2 linked regions of the Homo sapiens genome follow. The protein of the gene in region 2 purifies or fractionates together with the protein of the main gene of each other region. This does not show direct contact. Each region holds a gene or a part of one and is shown on either strand. Other genes may lie near its edges.

Region 1 (3,500 bases), on a different chromosome or scaffold from region 2:
TCAGACAGGTACCTGGAAGCAAGGGCCCTCCCCCTGGGTCTCGCTTCTTAGTGCTGGCGTCTCAGGCAGGTACCTGGAAGCAAGGGCCCTCCCCCTGGGTCTCGCTTCTCAATGCTGGCGTCTCAGGCAGGTACCTGGAAGCAAGGGCCCTCCACCTGGGTCTCGCTTCTCAATGCTGGCGTCTCAGGCAGGTACCTGGAAGCAAGGGCCCTCCCCCTGGGTCTCGCTTCTCAATGCTGGCGTCTCAGGCAGGGTGGGGGCAGCAAGCAAGTGGTCTGTTTGTAGAGACCCCAGGTGGCCCCAGGTGCAGTTGGGTAGGGACCCTTCCAGGGATCCCTGGCAAGTCAGTGGCAGGGCTGGGGCTCTGTCCCCATGGGTCTTAATTCTGAGGGCTTTGTCCCACGAGTGGGTGCCCTACTGTGCCACCCAGGAAGAAGACTCGATTCCTTCCGGGGACTTGGTTCTGGATGTGGAGTGGAGACATCACCTGCTCCCATCCTGAGCTCCGACCACAGGCCAGGAGCTGGGTTGCCAAGAGGAGAAGCCAGCCTCACCCCTGCTGCCCTGCGGGAGGCTGTGGCCCCTAAACAGTCACCACAAGGAGACCAGGATGCTGCTCTCATGGGAGCTGGCCTCTGACCTGTCTTGGGCAGGTCCCAGGCATTCCTCATCTGTTAGAGGCCAGCAATGCCCAGGTCTGCCCTAGACAGGCCAGCAGGAATGGAGAGGAGGGGTTCCTCAAGACCCCTGCATTGGGCTGGGTGCAGTGGCTCACGCCTGAAATCCCATTACTTTGGGAGGCCGAGGCGGGCAGATCACCTGAAGTCGGGAGTTCGAGACCAGCCTGACCAACATGGAGAAACCCCGTCTCTACTAAAAATACAAAATTATCCGGGCATAATGGTGCATGCCTGTAATTCCAGCTACTCAGGAGGCTGAGGCAGGAGAATCACTTGAACCTGGGAGGCAGAGGTTGTGGTGAGCTGAGGTCGTGCCATTGCACTCCAGCCTGGGCAACAAGAGCGAAACTCTGTCTCAAAAAAAAAAAAAGACCCCTACATTGATACCCATGCTATTCTCAGAGTGTGAGGTTTCCTGTCTCCTACCCACACCTGTGCTGCTGGTTTTAGGTAAAGTGACCGGATGTGGTTTTCCTAATCTCAGGCAGAGCAGCTCTGGCCATGCCCAGAAGTTGTCTGTTTCCTTGACCTGGGAGGGTGCTGCCCCAGGCCTGCACTCTGTGGATATTGGAGTGAAGCATGCTCATCCCCCAAGCAGCTGGAGTCTCTCTTCCTCTCCACGTTGAAACTTGTGTATCCCTGAGAACTCATAGGGCACAGGAAATGCCTTTAGGTTTGGCAAGAAAATGGAGGCGCCCAACAGGAGCCCATTGCACCCCAGCCTTTCATATTTCTGCCTTCCCACCCCCAACTGCGGCCACATCAGGCAGGTGCTTCCCAGCCTCAAGGGCTTGATACGTGCTGTGTCCCCGGCCTGGGAAGCTCTTCTGCTCTGCGTGGGGTCCCTCCTTTCCATCCGTCTGTTCCCCGCCACTCTCACTCCCAGCACCCATCCAGGTCCTCGGCCCCACCACAGTCTGCAGCTCCCTTGCTTCGTGTTCCATCTTCCTGAGCATGATTAGCCCTGCCAGAGCAGGATGGGGTGCAGCCATGCCCAGACAGAGCCGGGCCCATGGGAGATGCCTACTTCCTCCCTTTTGGATGAATAAGGGACTTAATCAAACCCCTGCCCTGTGCCTTGCATTCCTCCATGTGGGGCCTCAGTAACATCCCATGCTCCCTCCTCGCAGGCTGGCGTTCCATCCTGTCCTTCCAGATGAGAATACTGAGGCCAGATGGGGACCTGCTCAGGGCTTAACTGGGGCTCTGGTGTCTGATATTTCTGGAAGCAGCCAAGTCTCCAGGGAAACCTCTGGGTCCCTGGGGCACCATAAAGGCTGGAATTGGCGAAGTGTGGGGCTGAGAATCCACTTCCATTCAGCTGCCAGCCTCGCATGGGTACCCAGGGGCAGCCTCTGCCCACCTGTTCCTTCAGAAGCACAAAGCTGTTCCCTGCCAAGGTGGCCTCTCCTGTGTGGTCGGGGGACAAGTGTGGGCTCTCTTCTCGGCGGGACCCCAAAGACAGGCGCATGGCAGAAGGCGGGGCACACAGCCAGGGGAGCCTCCGCTTCACTCTCACTCCGTGCCCCAGAGGCGGCAGCAGATGGCTGGCGGGCACCCCTCACTCCAGAAGCCTCTTTGTTCAGGCCCCGCCTGCCCTGACCTGCCTCCCTGCCCGGGGAGAGGTCCTCCAGGAAGTCGGCCACCCTGTGAAGCACATCTCCTAGCAACGCGATTATCCCTTTGGCCTGGCCTCTCCCAGGGAGTTTACAAACAGTACAGCAGCTGCAGTGAAGTTCAGGCTGCCCCCGAGTTCACCAGCTTTTTTTTTTTTTTTTTTTTGAGACCGTTGCCAGGCTGGAGTGCAGTGGGGCAATCTCAGCTCACTGCATTCTCCACCTCCTAGGTTCAAGTGATTCCCCTGCCTCAGCCTCCCGAGTAGCTGGGACTACAGGCGTGTGCTACCACGCCCAGCTAATTTTTGTATTTTTAGTAGAGACGGGGTTTCACCATGTTGGCCAGGATGGTCTTGATCTCTTGACCTTGTGATCTGCCCGCCTTGGCCTCCCAAAGTGGTGGGATTACAGATGTGAGCCACCGTGCCTGGCCAAGTTCACCAGCTTTTAGCATCAGAGGCAGCGGGGCCTGCTCCTTGCCTTGTCCCTGCACCACTGCTCTGGGTCCTAGCCCCTCTCTTGCAGCTGCCTCTGCAGAGTCAGTGATGGGGCAGTCCCCCCCGATCCTTGTATTTCCCCTCTCACCCTTCCTTCTCAGTGCCCAAGAGGGGCCAGGAGGGCCCAGGAGGGAGTGGGATTCACCTGGGCTGGAGAACTCTGCAGATCCAGCCAGCCCTTCCTGAGGACCTGCTCAGAGCTGAGCACTACGGTCATTTGCTTTTTTTCTTTTTTTTTTAGAGACGGAGTCTCGCTCTGTCGCCCAGGCTGGAGTGCAATGGTGCAATCTTGGCTCACTGCAACCTCCTCCTCCTGGGTTCAAGCAATTCTCCTGCCTCAGCCTCTCGAGTAGCTGGGACTACAGGCACACGCCTTCACGCCCGGCTAATTTTTTTTTTTTTTTTGTATTTTAGTAGAGACGGGGTTTCACCGTGTTGCCTAGGCTGGTCTTGAACTCCTGAGCTCAGGCAATCCGCCCGCCTTGGCCTCCCAAAGTGCTGGGATTACAGGCGTGAGCCACCAAGCCTGGCCCTGCTTTTTTTCTTTGTTAACAAAATTCTGCTTTTAAAAAACACTAAAAAAAATTACATTTATTAAAGTAATATAGGCATATGGTTGAAACACGAAACTCCCCTAACTCCTCACTCTGAAGTTCACTGTACTTTCAACTCTTTCAGCTGTTTTCTTCCTAGAATGACCTAAAATA
Region 2 (3,500 bases):
TTACTGGTGCCCGCCACCACACCCGGCTAATTTTTTGTATTTTTAGTAGAGGCGGGGTTTCACTATGCTGGCCAGGCTGGTCTCGAATGCCTGACCTCGTGATCCACCCGCCTCAGCCTCCCAAAGTGCTGGGATTACAGGCGTGAGCCACCGCACCTGGCCTGTTCTGTGTTTTTACAATGCCCTGTAGTGTCTGGCTCCAAGAACAATCAACTAACCATGTATTTGTGGACTGCAGAGCATGAACCTGGAGGTGTGAACTGAACATTTCTGGCCTGAGTGACTGCTTTAGCCACTGCACAAGCTTCCTGTAACTCCTCTGCAAACTTTTAGTAACACTGCCACCAACAACTTTCCTAAAATGAGGGTCAAGTCACATTTATTCTCAGAAACCTTTAATAGCTGCTCAACAGAATAAAGGCCCATTCTTGGTGTTTCAGGGTCTCTGTGATCTCTACTTTTAGCTCTTTTTCTCTGCATTCTTCAAGAACCTGTCCTCTGGTCGCATTGAGTTATTTTCTAAAGAAATCATAAACTCTTCTACCTCCACTCCTTCCTCATTCTGTACACTCAGAATAAAATCTCTTCCTCCTTAGCCTTTTGTCTTTCCCCGCTGTCCTCTGACCTTAAAGACAGTTCAGAAGCCACCTCCTCCATTCAGCCTTGCTGTTTGCCTGGGGGGCACTAATCATTTTCATCTTCATTCTCACAGCATTTTACTTGAGCCACTATTGCACCATGTACTTCATTCTATCTTACATTCGTGATTATGTCTGCCCCTTGCACTAAAGTATTACTTTCTTGAAGTTACTGACCATGACTTATGTTTATAGTTAACACCAAACATTGCCAAATTTAGTGATTGCACATAGATTTTTTTTTTCCTTCACCAAGTATTTGTTGAATGGTTAAATGGGAAAGAGCGGGAGAGGGAGAGTGGGGATGGGGGAGCGGGAGGGGAGGGGAAGCAAGGAAGGATTATCTAAAATAATTAGGTTCAATAACAAAGGAGTACTTTCTTGGGAGTAGCTTGATTCTTCATTGCTTTTGGAATTGAATCATATTAATCTGTATGTCAACAATAATAGTGTGTCTCCTTTGTTTTCCTGCATTGTATATGGCTCCTTAAAAAATATATCTCCAGGCTGGGTGAGGCGGCTCACACCTTTAATCCCAGGACTTTGAGAGGCTGAGATGGGTGGATCACTTGAGTTCAGGAGTTTGACACTAGCCTGGGAAACAAAGTGAGACCCCCCATCTCTACAAAAAATACAAAACATTAGCTAGACATGGTGGCACATGGATGTTGCCCCAGCTACTCAGGAGGCTGAGCTGGGAGGATGACTTGAGCCTTGGAGGTCAAGGCTGCAGTGAGCCATGATTGCAACATTGCACTCCAGCCTGGGTGACAGAGGGAGATCCTGTCTCAAAAAACACCCAACTCTATTTTTCTGTCTACACACATATTCACACACGTGTATGTATGTTTCTTATATTTGTGGGTGCATATTTGTGTGTATTTCTTATTCCTTAAGTCTTTCTTATTCATTTTTTATCTCTAGTATCTAGTCTAGTGCATACATTTTTAGCTACAAAATAAATATCCACTATATTTGTAAAATAACATAGGGTTCTGAAGAAGGCTCCGTGACAAAGGGACAATGGAGTATGAACCACTGGGTCCCCAAGACCTGGAGGAGTACCGAGCATGTAGGAGAAGCACAATAAATATTTGTTCTGATTAAATTAAAGATGTTCAGGAATGACATAGTGCTCAAAATCATCTTCCTTTTAATGATTTTGTTTACGTTTTCTTTGTATATTTTCCAGTTGAAAATGACCCACATTTCATCATTTATCTACCAAAAAGCCAAAAGAACATTTGTTTCAATATTGACTCAGAACCTGGAAAAATCCTCAACCTGGTTTCTGACCCAGAATCAGGTAAAATAAAAATAAATTATATTTGCACCAATTAGGTCATTGTCATGCTTTCCTGTCACTGCCTGGGATTTCTTTCTTTCTCAGCTTAATAGAAGTTCTATATATTTCAGTGATATTAGTGAGAAATTAAATTATAAATATATTCTTAACTATTTTGAACCATTATAGTTCAAAATATATACTCTGAGTATGAACTTGCAGATCTTGTTGTGATATAATTAATTTAAATATGAGCCAGGAACGGTGGCTTACACATGCAATCCCAGCACTTTGGGAGGCCGAGGTGGGCGGATCATCTGAGGTCAAGAGTTCGAGACCAGCCTGGTCAAAATGATGAAACCCCACCCCCCACTACTAAAAATACAAAAACAATTACCCAGGCGTGGTGGTACACACCTGTAATCCCAGCTACTCAGGAGGCTGAGGCAGGAGAATTGCTTGAACCCGGGAGGTGGAGGTTGCAGTGAGCCAAGATCACACCATTGCGCTCCAGCCTGAGTGACAGAGTAAGACTCCGTCTCAAAAACAACAACAAAAAATTTAAATACTATATGATAGTCAATTATTTAAATTTTATAAACTGACAATTAAATTTTATAACTGATATAAAATTATTAAATTAAATTTTATTAAAATTTATAAATGTTATATTAACATGTTATAAAATGAGAATCACAAAGAAGAAAATGTTAATGTAAATCTTGAAGCAAAATTATAATAATTTTCCAATATTGCCAAGTTTTTATAAATTTGAATTATAGTACCCACACATGCAAAATAAATGGCACAGAAGAGAAAACATCATTTTTTTCTTTCCTGTAGGAATTGTAGTCAACGGTCAGCTTGTTGGTGCCAAGAAGCCCAACAATGGAAAACTAAGCACCTATTTTGGAAAACTGGGATTTTATTTCCAAAGTGAAGACATAAAAATAGAAATCAGCACTGAGACCATCACCCTGAGCCATGGTTCTAGCACATTCTCCTTGTCCTGGTCCGACACGGCTCAAGTCACGAATCAGAGGCAAGTATGATTCCATCTGAACTTGGGCCTGTCCGTGACACACGACTGCATAAATAAATCCAGGCATCAGTGACATCAACATTGAAAAAAAATCATCATTTTAAATATAAGGAAGTTGAGGTTCAGAAAAATTGTTCTCACTCCCTACTCTGTTCCTGGCAGTGGGCACTGTGTGTTTTTGGTCACCGTTGGGTCCCAGGACCTAGTCCAGTGCCTGGCATCAGTAAACACTCACTGTGTATGTGCTAATCAGTGAACAAATCCACCAGCTGAAATCCATACTGACTCTATCGCAGAGTGAGCTCCAAACGCCATGATTGTGTCCTCTGCGTAGAAGCTTCCCAATGAGTTTCTGTTAATCCATCATTTATCTATAAACTGTTGCAAGCGCTTAGATAACTAGCGGAATTGTCTGGGAGGAGTGAAGAGTTCATATTAGGGGTGAGAAGAATGACTTTCTCAAAAGGTCTGTTCTGGAATGGTTTAATTCCTCTTGGACTTTCACACCAGGGTGCAGATCTCAGTGAAGAAAGAA

What was found. The genes of interacting proteins can lie anywhere in the genome.
Region 1: the proteins of ITIH2 (region 2) and TMEM184B fractionate together in Homo sapiens (co-fractionation; one large-scale study listed by BioGRID). This does not show direct contact.

The regions. Positions count from the first base shown.
Region 1 is NC_000022.11:38,242,011-38,245,510, reverse strand, and holds part of TMEM184B (transmembrane protein 184B), read left to right. Parts: intron 1-3,500. UniProt on the Homo sapiens protein: May activate the MAP kinase signaling pathway.
Region 2 is NC_000010.11:7,741,316-7,744,815, forward strand, and holds part of ITIH2 (inter-alpha-trypsin inhibitor heavy chain H2 precursor), read left to right. Parts: intron 1-1,830; coding exon 1,831-1,944; intron 1,945-2,766; coding exon 2,767-2,965; intron 2,966-3,475; coding exon 3,476-3,500. UniProt on the Homo sapiens protein: May act as a carrier of hyaluronan in serum or as a binding protein between hyaluronan and other matrix protein, including those on cell surfaces in tissues to regulate the localization, synthesis and degradation of hyaluronan which are essential to cells undergoing biological processes.